Linked DNA regions of Homo sapiens. Each later gene encodes a partner of the first gene's protein in a complex. Each region holds a gene or a part of one and is shown on either strand. Other genes may lie near its edges. A codon is read from its position in the direction of its gene.

Evidence for each region. The genes of interacting proteins can lie anywhere in the genome.
Region 2: the proteins of SLC7A13 (region 1) and SLC3A1 are in contact, whole or in part, in a cryo-EM structure (PDB 8WK6), measured with the Homo sapiens proteins. Residues at the interface, in NP_620172.2 of Homo sapiens: Ile120, Phe123, Phe124, Pro125, Ser126, Cys127, Leu132, Pro133, Cys136, Leu137, Leu139, Ala140, Met141, Trp143, Ile147, Arg151, Lys187, Thr265 (codon at 2,641), Arg267 (codon at 2,635), Asp281, Arg282, Glu450, Cys454, Tyr455, Gln457, Leu458, Leu459, Phe460, Asn461, Ile462; in NP_000332.2 of Homo sapiens: Pro64, Tyr65, Ala66, Gly67, Met68, Pro69, Lys70, Leu73, Phe76, Ser77, Arg81, Tyr82, Pro85, Arg86, Leu89, Phe90, Thr93, Ser96, Val97, Leu100, Ile101, Thr104, Ile107, Ile108, Ser111, Cys114, Leu115, Glu194, Asn195, Asp202.

Annotation. Positions count from the first base shown.
Region 1 is NC_000008.11:86,220,356-86,227,384, forward strand, and holds part of SLC7A13 (solute carrier family 7 member 13), read right to left. Parts: intron 2,749-7,029; coding exon 2,617-2,748; intron 1-2,616. UniProt on the Homo sapiens protein: Associates with SLC3A1/rBAT to form a functional heterodimeric complex that transports anionic and neutral amino acids across the apical plasma membrane of renal epithelium.
Region 2 is NC_000002.12:44,306,462-44,313,490, reverse strand, and holds part of SLC3A1 (amino acid transporter heavy chain SLC3A1), read right to left. Parts: intron 906-7,029; coding exon 738-905; intron 1-737. UniProt on the Homo sapiens protein: Acts as a chaperone that facilitates biogenesis and trafficking of functional transporter heteromers to the plasma membrane.

The DNA.
Region 1 (7,029 bases):
TTTTCTAGAAGAACACCCTTCCCTTCTCAGTTGTGAAACTTATTCATAATAAAGGCTATTTTATTTCCTAAGAGAAAAATAGGTGAAGAAACAAGTCAGAGCTCTGACACGGACACAGACAAAAACATTACATGATTAATACCATTCTTTCTTTTTCTATCTAAACCACAAATATTAGAATCTAATATTTATCGCAGCCTGGTGTAATTCTTTCAATGTTCCTTAAATAAAATGTAGTATCCAATTCCTGCCACATCATGGATGCTCTATATTCATATGGAAACTTTTCATATTTTTTACATATACTTGTTTGATTGAAAAAAATGCATCCCTTAATCGTTAAAATTTCTTAATTTAAGAAACTATATTTGGGCCTAGTGGCTCACGTCTGTAACCCCAGCACTTTGAGAGGCCAAGAGGGAGAATCAGTTGAGGTCAGACCAGCCTGGCCAACATGACAAAACCCTATCTCTACTAAAAATACAAAAATTAGCCAGGTGTGGTGACCCATGCCTGTAATCCCAGCTACTCAAAAGGCTGAGGCACAAGAAGCGCTTGAACCTGGGAAGTGGAGGTTGCAGTGAGCAAGATTGTGCCACTGCACTCCAGCCTAGGCAACAGAGCAAGACTCTGTTTCAAAAAAAAAAAAAAAAACTATTTCTTTTGCTTATAACTTTCCCCCTTATTACACAAATTTTGCACTTTAAAGAAAATTTGGAATATTCAGTGCAAACAATAAAGTAAAAATCACATACAATATCATTCCCATTGATCACCATTGTTAACTACTTATTTACTGTTTTATATCATTATATACATCCTGACTTTTTCCTCATTATTGATTTAACATTGCCCCTTTTCTTCAAGTATCCATCAACAATATCATCTTTTACAAATCACAGAATGTTCTATTATATAGATTTCCCATAAATTTTTTATTTGTTTCAAGCTTATTGGATATTTTTATGGTTTTTAATTTTTTGCTATCATACATAAAGCTATGATTACTATACCTATACATACATTTTTCATGTATGACTGATTATTTTCTTAATTTAAATTTCTTGTACAATAAACACGCAGATATTTGGACTTAAAAAGATTAATTTAGAATTTTTTTTTATTATACTTTAAGTTTTAGGGTACATGTGCACATTGTGCAGGTTAGTTACATATGTATACGTGTGCCATGCTGGTGCGCTGCACCCACTAACTCGTCATCTAGCATTAGGTATATCTCCCAGTGCTATCCCTCCCCACTCCCCCCACCCCACCACAGTCCCCAGAATTTAAACAAAAAGTCTAAAGATGATATGCCTAAAAAAGTAAGCATTGTAGCCAAATTAAAAGTGATGATGGTCAAAACACTTCACGAGTCTTCCACACATGCCAAAATCATTGTGCCATCTACAAAATTGCTATAATCATTATTACACCGAAGGAGATATTCATGATTTTTTAACAACCCGTATGGACGGAGCACTGGTAGTCATAACAGACGCCAGCTTCAATGAACCGTAACAATGGTGCTAGCTGACCAGCAGCCCCAACCACACCCACAATTAACTTTGTAAATTTATTCTTTACATAATCAAGGTAGTTAATAAATCACTGCTTGTTCTGATCTGAATTTGCATTTGGTTTTTTCCCACAGACACTCAGAAGCTTGAATCCATCTAGTTTATAGGTCCCTAAGATAGCTAGACCATTATGAATCAGCACTGATACCATATGGCATCACCCTGCAGGGCAGTAACATAAGAATTGAGGCAAAGTTTACCAGAATTTTATATCAAAATCTCCCTTAGGTTTGCGTCCATGCCTCAAAGATTCACCAAACCAATAATAGCTGCTCAAAAGACATTAGTCCTAAAGGTACTGGGTGATAGGTTTATCTTGTGAGGTCGTTTAATGCTGGCTTGAGGAAATTACTAGTCTTCCACTTTCCCTGTTTCTCATTTCTTTCCAAATTTCTTTTTATTCGTTGATCTGTTACTCATTTTTCAATGTATATTTATTTAAAATTTTCTCATTCTTTTATTCTTTATTCTACAATTTGGTCTCTAAGATAGCTATTTTTTGGTCAGATTTCCAATATGTTCAGGACACTTTGCCACCATAAATTTTAGAGTTGTTCATGGTAAACCGTATTATTTTAACATCAATATTAATTATATGCATCAATTGAACATTAGCATCTACTCTTTTAACTGCCAATATTCTACACTTCGAATTGATCATTTTTTGTGACACCTAGAAAAACATTGAGACTCAAACATTTTGAAAGTTTTAAAATCGATGTAAACAGTGATTACTCAGTGTCACTCTAGTGAGATGAGATCATGAAAGGAATACTAATATTTTGAATCTGATCTACACCATACATCAACATTATATACATCTTTCCATATTATTAGAAAAGGCATAACCATGCTTAAAGATGAATCTCCTTTCTAAGACAAATCATTCCCTTTGGCCCTCTGTTATTTTAGAAAATTATAAGTTGATTCCATATATAGAATAATGAACAGTAAACAGTGGTTCTGACTGGTGAAATGATAGTTACGTTGAAAGGACCAGCACTTTATTTATTGCTTTAGCCATTTGCATACAAACCTGAAGAGAGAATTTCCCTGGGTGTCAGAACAGTCAGATAGGAAATGTTAACCAGTAAATAAACTACAGTCACCAGAGGTAACGCAGTAAATATGCATTTGGGAATTGTTGTTCTGGGCTTCTTCAGCTCCCCTATAACACAAAAGAGGACACAACCATAATTGGTAAACATTATTTCTAAAATTCATTATTTTTAGATTATTATTTTTGTATTTGTATAAATTAATGGGGTACAAGCATGATTTTATTATGTGGATAGGTTGTGTGGTGGTCAAATCAGAGTTTTAGTGTATCCATCACCTGAATAACATACATTGTACCTATTAAGTAATTTTTCATCATCCACCTGTCTACTCCCTCTCCCTTCCAAGTCTCTGTGGTTCATCATTTTACTCTCTACATCCATAAGTACACATTTTGTAGTTAATTATGAGTGAGAAGGTATAATATTTCTTTCTATTTTTGAGTTATTTCACTTAGGATGATGGTCTCCAGCTGCATTCATGTTGCTGAAAAAGACATGATTTCATTCTTTTTTATGGCTCTGTAATATTCTGTGGTATATTATACACACACACACTAGTGTTGTGATAAACATGAGTGCAGATGTCCTATTCATTTATTTTCTTTTGGGGAGATACCCAGTAGTGGGATTGTTGGATCAAATTGTAGTTCTATTTTTAATTCTTTGAGAAATCTCCATACTGTTTTCCATAGATATTATACTAATTTACATTCCCACCAACATTGCTCCATGTGTCAACAATTGGGCTAGGCTCTTCTTATTCATTCAGCCACCACCACTACACATACACTAAAATGCACACACACACACACACACACACACACTGGTGGACTGCTACACACCCACCTGCCTAATATAGCTAAATGAAGAAAAATATGAAATATGCTTCATTTTCTCCATAGATGGCAAAATTTCTGAAGATAGACTTAAGAATGAAAAATGAAATCGGAGCCCATAAGTCCTGTACCATTTGAAGCCCACTTATGTGTTTAGCCTCATCTATTAAGTCCTAGGCATTGAGTTTGGATAGTGGGAATACAATGGTGAGCAGAAACTACATGAAATTTGACCTCAAGAAGAAGAGCTACACATGAGTTAAATAATTGCATAAATAAAAGGTTAAAATACTAGTGACTATGGTAAGTGTCTATATGAAAAGAAACAAGGTGCTATGGAGATATATTATGTGACAATGTGACAGTTTCTCTTGCTATCTGTGTTTTATATATAGACTGACTGGCCTTTGCAGTTCCTCAACAATGTCCTATCCCTTCTTGCCATAGGGTCTACTCTCTTATGTGGAATGTTCTTTCCTAGTTGCCTAGTTGACCCTACCCTTCCTTCAGATCTCAGGAAAATAATTACTTCTGGGAAACTAGGAGAGGAAACTCTCTCCCTGGCTAGCAAAATTTTCCTATTATACATTTCTCATACTGTATATTGAAAGGAGTTAAAGAGCCCATCATAAATTATCTCTTCCTGTATGCTCTTGACCATTCCTTTATGCCAATATTAAGTGCAAAAAAAGGCCAAAAAAGTTGATATTTAGCATCATATAGAGTGGATTCTCTAGGACAGTTTTATTTTTAAATATTGTTCCATTCATCACACCATTTCCCCAAATTTTGTCCTACCCTGAGAATTGCTCTGTGGCATGAAGAAATGATCATCTATAACCTTAATATACAATGGCACCCTGTGCCCTGCCCAGTGGAAAGGAACAAAGAACAGACATCCGATCCACTGGAAGCCAATGATTTTCGGTATACAGGAAAATTTATCTCAAGAATTTGAAACAAAGTTCAAGAGAAAAGCAACGTAATGGTGTTAAAAAAGAAAGGAAGATGAGAAAATTTGTTTTTTTTTAATTTCTAGAACTTCCCTATTTTTTTCATATTTATTTATTTATTTTATAGAGACGGGGGTCTCGCTATGTTGCCTGGACTGGTCTTGAACTCCTGGCCTCAAGCAATCCTCCAGTCTAGGCCTCCCAAAGTGCAGATTAAAAACGTGAGTCACCATGTCCAGTCTGCTTCCCTATTTTTTGTTGCTTCCTAAGATGTGTTGCACAAATCTTCCTTAAAATATAGCATTATCCTTCCAGTAAGTTCCCCTTTTATTGTTTAAGTTAATGTATGTGGGTTTCTGCTACTTAAAACCAAATCCCCTTTACTAATAAATATCTATCATTTGACTATATCAAATTTCTTCCATCTGTGTCTGCCCAGGGGTTGGATCTAATGCCCATGGGGAACACTAATCTGAGCTGATTAAGAACTTGATTAGTAAAAAATTAGAAGGTTTTAATTTTAACCCTGCCCGCACCACTTTGGCTGTCAAGGTTTCAATCTCCTTATAGTGAAAACTGTAGGGACAACAAAATTCCAATCCTAGTGTTTAGCATATAATAAGTGCTGAATAAATGGTTGTTGTTAATTACTATAGTTATTAAAGCTTTGGGACAAACAAAAGGGCAATTTTTTGGATTATCTGTTCTTTCTTCTGAGCCTTTTACTTGTTCTCATTATGTACTTGATATGTAAAGAGGAGATGGAGATTACAATTTAATTTATAATAAAAAGTTATAATAGCCAGACAAGCGACAAATATCCTTGACTCTTGAACTTAAAAGATGGGTATTCCGGCCGGGTGTGGTGATTCACGTCTGTAAACCCAGCACTTTGGGAGGTCAAGGCAGGTGGATCACTGGAACCCAGAAGTTCAAGGCCAGTCTGAGCAACATGCCAAAACCTCGTCTCTACTAAAAATCCACACACAAAAAAACTTAGCTGGGCATGATGGTGAGTGCCTGTAGTCGCAGCTACTCAGGAGGCTGAGGTGAGAGAATCAATCAAGCCCAGAAGGTCAAGGCTGCAGTGAACTATGATTGCACAGCTGCACTCCAGCCTGGGTGATAAAAAATAGAATTTTTTTTTTAAAAAGATGGGTATTCCTACACCTTGCAAAGTCGCCTGTCTACAAGTCACTATTTTGCAGGTAAAAGGGTTACTTAAAACTTAGATGTACTTAAGACTTATTTTGTAAATTAACTCCAGCACACACTGAAATTCCTCCAACTTTTGTTCACCACTAGCGGCTTGTGAGGAACTCCATAATAGTTTATAGGTCAGTAAGAATAAATTCTGTAAGTATATTTTCAGCTGACAATAATTATCTAACAATGAAACATCTCTGCAATGGGATACAATGAAACTGGCTCAAATAAAAATCCAGAAATATTGCTTCTAGCCTTGAAAGCAAGAAACAATGAGATTTGCTCGTTATGCCAGCTGCTGAAATTGGCCCATTTAATCACAAGCCATGTAAAACAGTAATCTCCTCATAGCTTTCTTTTCTCAATACCTTATTTTTAACTCAATGCAAACTGACTTCCTCTCATGTTCAAAATTCACCAATGACTTCTTACATTATCAATGATGGCGCTCCAACCAGTCCTCATGATCCTTGACTTCTGAAGCATTTAACCAGATAGATTATTCCCCACTTTTTGAAACATATTGTGATTTTCCTCTATACCACTCTGAGCCTCCTCTGGCTTCCTCACTGAATCTTCTTTCTCTACCTCCTGCTTAAAAGTTGGCATTGTCCAGTCATCTGTCCCCCTCCAACCCTATGCCGTTTCATCCTTCGTCTCTATGTACTTGCCTTAGTAATCAATCCTATGTATTTTGTCCTTCGTCTCTCTATGTACTTGCCTTAATAATCGTATCTAATACCAAGACTCTCAGATGGAAACCATTTTGTAGTCACCTGAGGTTGCATGCCTTGTCTTATATCTACACTGCATGCTTCTATTCTCCACGGCTTCACTCATATTTTTCTGGAATTTTGTGGATTCAATTCAAATTGCCACTTTTCCACTCAGTGACAGCAAAAAGTGACCTTTCTATTGATTTCCAAGGTAATTATATTGTTCCGTTATGGCTATCTATTAAATACTGTATCAAATTATTTGTTTATAAGGCACAGAATTATAGTCATTTTAAACCATGATGTACATTTTGCAGATAATAAAAAAGAGGCTAGAAAGGAGAAAACACTTGCTATAGTTGGTAATGGCAGACCCAAATCTAGGTATTGCCTCTTCTACTAGACTGTAAGCCTTTTTGATAAAGACTATATCTTACTCATCTTGAGGCACCAGTACAGGGTTTTAAAAATAGTCTTTGAAAAGATAGTGGCTACTCAAATGATTTCACAAATGATAGATAAATTAGTGGTGGGGGACCTGAGATTAGAAAAAGTTTTGTTCAGTAGTTAAGAGTCTGATACATATATAAATAACAAGGAAAAGAACTGATTTTTTAGAAAAGATTGAAAGTGAGAAAAAATGAAATAAAAGAATGTGAAAAGTCCTTAAGGGGATG
Region 2 (7,029 bases), on another chromosome or scaffold:
ATTTAAGAACACTGCCATGTACAAGTGAGTATGAATTCTGTCCTACTCGTTTATTCAGCCTGATTATTGCTCATGAGTGCACACACACAAATGTAGGAGCTGATAGAGGGAAAAAAGCTTCACCTTAATCAAATATTAGGGAAATTGGATCTCATATAGTTGAAAGCTAACTAGGCAATTAAAGTTGCAAGATAGTCGTCTACCCAGCAACACAATTCTGAAATCTGTAGCTACAAAATAAAAACTGCTTAACTCTGAGGCTGTGCACTGCACCTGATAACAGAAAAGAAAAGGGTCCTTGTGCTGTGGTCACCCAAGACCAAACAGGACAAATGAGAACTAAAGAAATAAGTGTTCCTAACTCCACATTTCAAGTAGAGGGAAATGAGTCATATTCTAAACTAAACCACCGGTTCTCCAATTTTAGTGTGCCTCTCAACACAGTATTCCTGGCAAAATAAATAAATAAATTTTAATGTGCCTATCAGGTAGAAAACATCTTTAAAATGCCCTACCCAAGAAACTTTTAGTTGTATGGCTCCAAAGCATTTTTAAAATAAGCTCTCAGACCACCAAGAAAGCTGAGAATTCTTACTAACAGTAAGAAAGAAAAGCAAAGTAACCATGATTTTCAGCAATGCAATAGAGAGATAGTAAGTTCTCTGATTTGGCAAAAAATAAAAAATGAATACTTGGTTTTATAGCTGTGATGAATAGTCAAGTTGTATTCAACTTACAATATCATAGCTTTCATTGAGATTTGCGGCTACAATATTTCCCATTCCAATTTCTTCTCCATAGTAAGTTATAGGAGTTCCAGGGAGTGTGAAAAGAAGCATGTTCATCACGTTGACATACTGATTCCCCAAACGCGAAGTCAGCCGTGAACTGTCTGGTCCACCAATCTGAAAGGCAGATATTTTTAAGAACACAGCTGTATACACAGTTTTCTGAAAGATTTACCCTATTTCACAGAAAGTTCACAACGTAGCAAAACAAAGTAGATGTGGTACCTTGGTACTAGCAAGCCTGGACTTGAGTCCTAGGCCTGCTATTTGCTGTGTAACTGACCAATTTATTATCTTGGCCACTGATGAGCAAGAAAAGGGTGATAAGAATTTATTGTACAATGATATTGCAAATAAAACTCAGAGGGTACATAGTCATATTTTCTCATATTTGGATAAGAGAATATTGACAGGAAAGGAAGCAAAACTGTGGCAGAGAGCAAGACAAGGGAACCCAGGTGAAAGGGACAGGCATGAGAGACTTCTGATGTGTCCTCTTTTAAAAAATTGTTTTGACTTATGAATTATTCAGACAAAATTTTTAAAGTAAATCAACTTTTAGAAAGAATTTACATACTCCAAGATGAAATTTTATAAAGTGTTTTCTATTTGTAAATATATTTCCATGTTAAACGTTCTAGGTATATTCTAGCCCTTATTTAAATAAGTTTGTTTAAATAAGAATTTATTTAAATCACCTGACAACTCTCTCCATAACCCACAACTCAAACCCTCATGTGCATACGCTGAGCATGGCACTTTACTTTTTAAAAAGTACTTTCACACCTATATTTCCCTCCTTCACACAACAGTGCTAGCAAGTACTATCTCCGTTTTACAAATGAGGAAACAAGCTCTGAGAAATTACATCATTTATTCAAGTAGTAGTCTAAGACAGAACTAGCGTTCGAACTTGAGTCTTAGGACAAGACTTAATTGCTACAATTCAAGAAATAGGAGGTTGGGTTTTTTTTTTTTTAACTTCCTTAGCTGTATGAAAATGATCTTTATAATTACGTTTTTATAGACCATTGTGAAGTATTTTTCTATGTTTATGGCCAGAAAATTAGGTCAATTTTTGCCTCCATCCTTTTATTCTTTTCACTGTCATGAGATCTTCTGACAAGAAACCCTTTGATTTCTCAAGACTTCTGGACATAGAGCACAACAAACACTGGGAAAGGAAGAATGTGATTTCCAGAATTGTCATACTACTTAAAATGTCCGGTTTTTAACAACAACAACAAATATACAAAACAGTCAAAGAAAACAGGAAAATATGGCTCATATAATGGTGGGGGGAGTCAATAGCAAATATTGCTTAGGAAGACCAAACATTGGACTTACTAGACAAAGATTTTAAACCAGCTAATATTTTGATATTCAAAGAAAAAACCTGTGCCTGAAGAATTTAAAGTATATGAACAGTTATCAAATAGATAAGAGAAATTATGAAAAAATAAAACTGTTAGAGTTAAAAAGTACAATAGCTAAAGTGAGACGTTTACTAGAGGGACTTGACAAATTTGAACTAGCAAAGGAATCAGAAAACTTGAAGACTCAATTGAGAGTATCTGGCCTGAGAACCAGAAAGAAAAAGAAGAATGAGGCCAGGCACTGTGGCTCCCACCTGTAATCCCAGTGCTTTGGGATGCCAAGGCAGGAAGATGCTTGAGCTCAGGAGTTCTAAACCAGCCTGGGCAACATGGTGAGACCCCATGTCTACAAAAAAATTAAAAATTTAGCCAGGCATGGTGGCATGCACCTGTAGTCTCAGCTACTCAAGAAGCTGAGATGGGAAAATTGAGCACAGGACATCAAGGTTGCAGTGAGCCATGTTTACACCACTGCACTCCAGCCTGGGCAACAGAGCAAAACCCTGTCTCAAAAAAAAAAACCAGACTCTCAGAGACCTGTGGGATACTATCATGCATACCAACATATGCATAATGGGAGTCTCAAAAGGAGAGAAGGAAGAGAAATGGTCAGAAACAATATTTAAAAAAAAAATAGCCAACAACTTCCCAAATTTGATTTTTTTAAAAATTGTGTATCTAAGAACCTCAATGAACTCCAAGTAGGACAAAATTTTTAAAAACCCACACTTAGACATATCAGTCAAACCGTTAAAAGACACAGAATCTTTAAAGGAGCAAAGAAAATTGGTACATCACATGTAAGGAGTCTCAATAAGATTAGCAACTGACTTCTTATCAGAAACCATGAAGGCCAGAGGGCAATGGGATGACATATTCAAAGTGATGAAAGAAAGAACTGTAAACCAAGATTTCTATATCCAGCAAAACTGTTATTCAATAATGAAAAAATGAGATACCACTTCATTTGTACTATGATGAGTATAATTTTTTAAATCAAGACAGAAAAGTGTTGGTGAGGATGAAAAGAAATTGGAACCTTCGTACATGGCTGATGGGAATGTAAAACGGAGAAGTCACTATGGAAAACAGTTTGGTAGTTCCTCAAAATCACAGAAGTACTATATGATCCAAGGCTGGGCACAGTGGCTCACACCTGTAATCCTAACACTTTAAGGGCCAAGGTGGGAAGATCACTTGAGCTCAGGAGTTCAAGACCAGCTTGGACAACATGGCAAAACCCCATCTCCACAAAAAATACAAAAATTATCCAGGTATGGTGGTATGCACCTATAGTCCCAGCTACTTTGTGGGAGCTAATGCAGGAGGATTGCTTGAGCCCAGGAGGTCAAGGCTGCAGTGAGCCATGTTCACACCACAGTGCTCCAGCCTAGGTGATGACAAAGTGAGACCCTGTCTCAAAAAAAAAGCCTGGGCACAGTGGCTTATGCCTGTAATCCCAGCACTTTGGGAGGCCAAGGCAGCAAATCACTTGAGGCCAGGAGTTCCAGACCAGCCTGGCCAACATGGTAAAACCCCATTTCTACTAAAAATACAAAAATTAGCCAGTCATGTTGGCACATGCCTGTAATCCAAGCTACACAGGAGGCTAAGGCATAAGAATTGCTTGAACCCAGAGGCAGAGGTTGCAGTGAGCCGAGATCATACCACTGCACTCTAGCCTGGGTGATACAGTGAGACTCCATCTCAAAAAACAAAACAAAAGAAGTATTATGTGATCCAGCAATTCCACTCCATGGTATAGATCCAAAAGAATTGAAATCTGGGGCTTAAACAGATACTTGTACACCATTGGTTTGTAACATTATTCCAACAGCCAAAAGGAGGCAAAACCACAAACGTCACCAACAGATGAATAGATAACGTGTTACATAGGTACCATGGAATGTTATTCAGTCATAAGAAGGAGTAAGATCTCATACATGCTATTGTATGTATGAAGGAAAGTTGAAAACATTAAGCTAAGTGAAATGAGGCAGACACAAAAGGACAAATATTGTTATGATTCCACTTATATGAGGTACCTAGAATAGGCAAATTTATAGAGGCTGAAAATAGAATGGAGGATATCAGGGGTTAGTGGTGGAAGTGAGGAATTATTGTTTAGTGGGTACAGATTTTCTGTTTGGGATGATAAAAGTTCTAGAAACTGATAATGGTGATGGTTGTACAACATTTTGAATGTATTTAATGCATTGAATTACACACTTTTGAATGTTTAAAATTGTTTTATGTATATTTTGCAATAATTTTAAAACAAAAAATTCCTCAGAAGGCCAGGCACAGTAGCTCACGCCTGTAATCCCAGCACTTTGGGAGGCTGAGGCAGGCAGATCATGAGGTCAGGAGACCGAGGCCATCTTGGCTAACACGGTGAAACCCCGTCTCTACTAAAAATACAAGAAGTTAGCCAGGCATGGTGGCAGGCACCTGTAGTCCCAGCTATTTGGGAGGCTGATACAGGAGAATGGCATGAACCCGGGAGGCGGAGCTTGCAATGAGCTGAGATCACACCACTGCACTCCAGCCTGGGCAACAGAGCAAGACTCTGCCTCAAATTAAAAAAAAAAAAATTCTTCAGGAATTCACAATAAACTATTAGAAACGAAAAACAAGTTCAGCAATGTTTTAGGATACAAGATCAATATACACAAATCTATTGTATTTCTATACACTAATAATGAAGAATCCAATAATGAAATTAAGCAAACACTTCAGTTTACAATAATATCAAAAGAACAAAATACTTAGGAATAAACTGAACAAAAAGTCTAAGACTTGTACAATGAAAAATACAAAACATCATCAAAAGAAATTAAAGACCTAAATAAGATACATCTGTCTTCATGGATTAGAAGACAAGATGGCATGATTGCCAAAAATGATAAACAGATTCAATGCAATCCCTATCAAAATCCCAGTTGGCTATTCTAAAATTTATATGGAAATCCTAAAATTCACATGGAAATATAAGGTACCCAGAACAGCTAAAACAATCTTGAAAAATAACAAAGTTGGAGGACCCATACTTCTCTATGTCAAAACTTACTAAGCTACACTAATCAACTCAGGGTGTTCAGGCATAGAGACAGACATATAGATGAACAGAACTGAGAGTCTGGAAATCTAATCAACTGATTTTCTTTTTTTTGTTTTGTTTTACATTTAGAGACGGGGTCTCACTCTGTCACCCAGGCTGGAGTTCACCCTGGAGTGTAATCATGGCTCAAGGCAAACTTGAACTCCTGGGCTCAACTCCCACCTCAGCCTCCCAAAGTGCTGGGATTTCAGATGTGAGCCACCACGCCCAGCCTACAATCAGTTGATTTTTCAACAAAGATTCCATGATAATCCAATGAAGCAAAGAATAGTCTTTTTAGCATGTGGTGCTGGAATAAATAGACCAGGCAATGGTTTCTAATATAACACTAAAAGTACAAGTAACAACAACAACAAAACAACTGGACTTCATAAAAATTAAAAACTTCTGTGCTTTTCAAGGGACACTATCAAGAAAGTGACATGAAAGCCCACAGAATGGGAGAAAATACTTGCAAATCACCTATCCAGTATATATCAGGAATTCTTACAACTAAACAATAAAAAGACAACCAAATTTAATTATAGGCAAAGAATCTGAACAGACATTACTCCAAATAAGACATGCAGATGTCCAATAAGCACATGAAAATACCCTCAACAAAATTAGCCATCAGGGAAATGCAAAAAAAAAAAAAAAAATGCAATGAGATAACAACTTGACACTCAGTAGGAAGGCCATCATCAGAAAGGCAGACCATCACAAGGCTTGATGAGATGTGGAAAAATTGGAACCCTCGTAACATTGCTGGTGGGAATGTAAAATGGAGTAACTACTTTGGAAAACAGTTTGGCAGTTCCTCAAATAGTTAAATGTAGACTTACCATATGCCCAGTGGAGCAATTCCACTCCTGGATATATATCAGAGAGAATTGAAAACATGTTTTTATAAAAACTTGTACACAAATGTCCATAGCATCACTATTCGTAATAGTCCAAAAGTGAAAACAAATCTCTGTCAATTCATGATCAGATAAACAAAATGGGCTTTATGGAAGTTACTATTCAGCCATAAAAAGGAACGATGTACTGAGACATACTACAACATGGATAAACCTTGAAAACACTATGTTAAGTGAAAGAAGCTAGACACAAAAGTCCCATATCGTATAGCTCCATTTATATGAAATGCCCTGAATAGGCAAATCCATAGACACGGAAAGTAGGTGAGTGGTTGCCAGAGACTGAGGACAGAGAGGGAGGGGCCATGCGCAGTTATTGCTAGTGGAGATGTGGTTTATTTTGGGGGTGATGAAAATGCTCTGGAATGAGACATTGGTGATGGTTGCATAATTCTGTGAATATACCGAAAATCCACTTAATTATATACTTTAATAACGGTAAATTTTGGCTGGGCTCAGTGGCTCACACCTGTAATCCCAGCACTTTGGGAGGCCAAGATGGGTGGATCACCTGAGGTCAGGAGTTCGAGACCAGCCTGGCCAACATGATGAAACCCCGTGTCCCTACTAAAAATACAAAAAATTAGCTGGGTGTGGTGGTGGGCACCTGTAATCCCAGCTACTCTAAAGGCTGAGGCAGGAGAATTACTTGAACCCAGGAGGCAGAGGTTGAAGTGAGCCGGGATCACACCACTGCACCCCAGCCTGGGTAACGAGCAAAACTCCGTCTCAAAAAAAAAAAAAAAAAAAAAAGTTTTATGGTATGTGAATTATATCTCGACAAAGCTGTTATTTAAAAATTGTATAGTTTTAATACTTACATTTAACAAATTAAAGCTTTT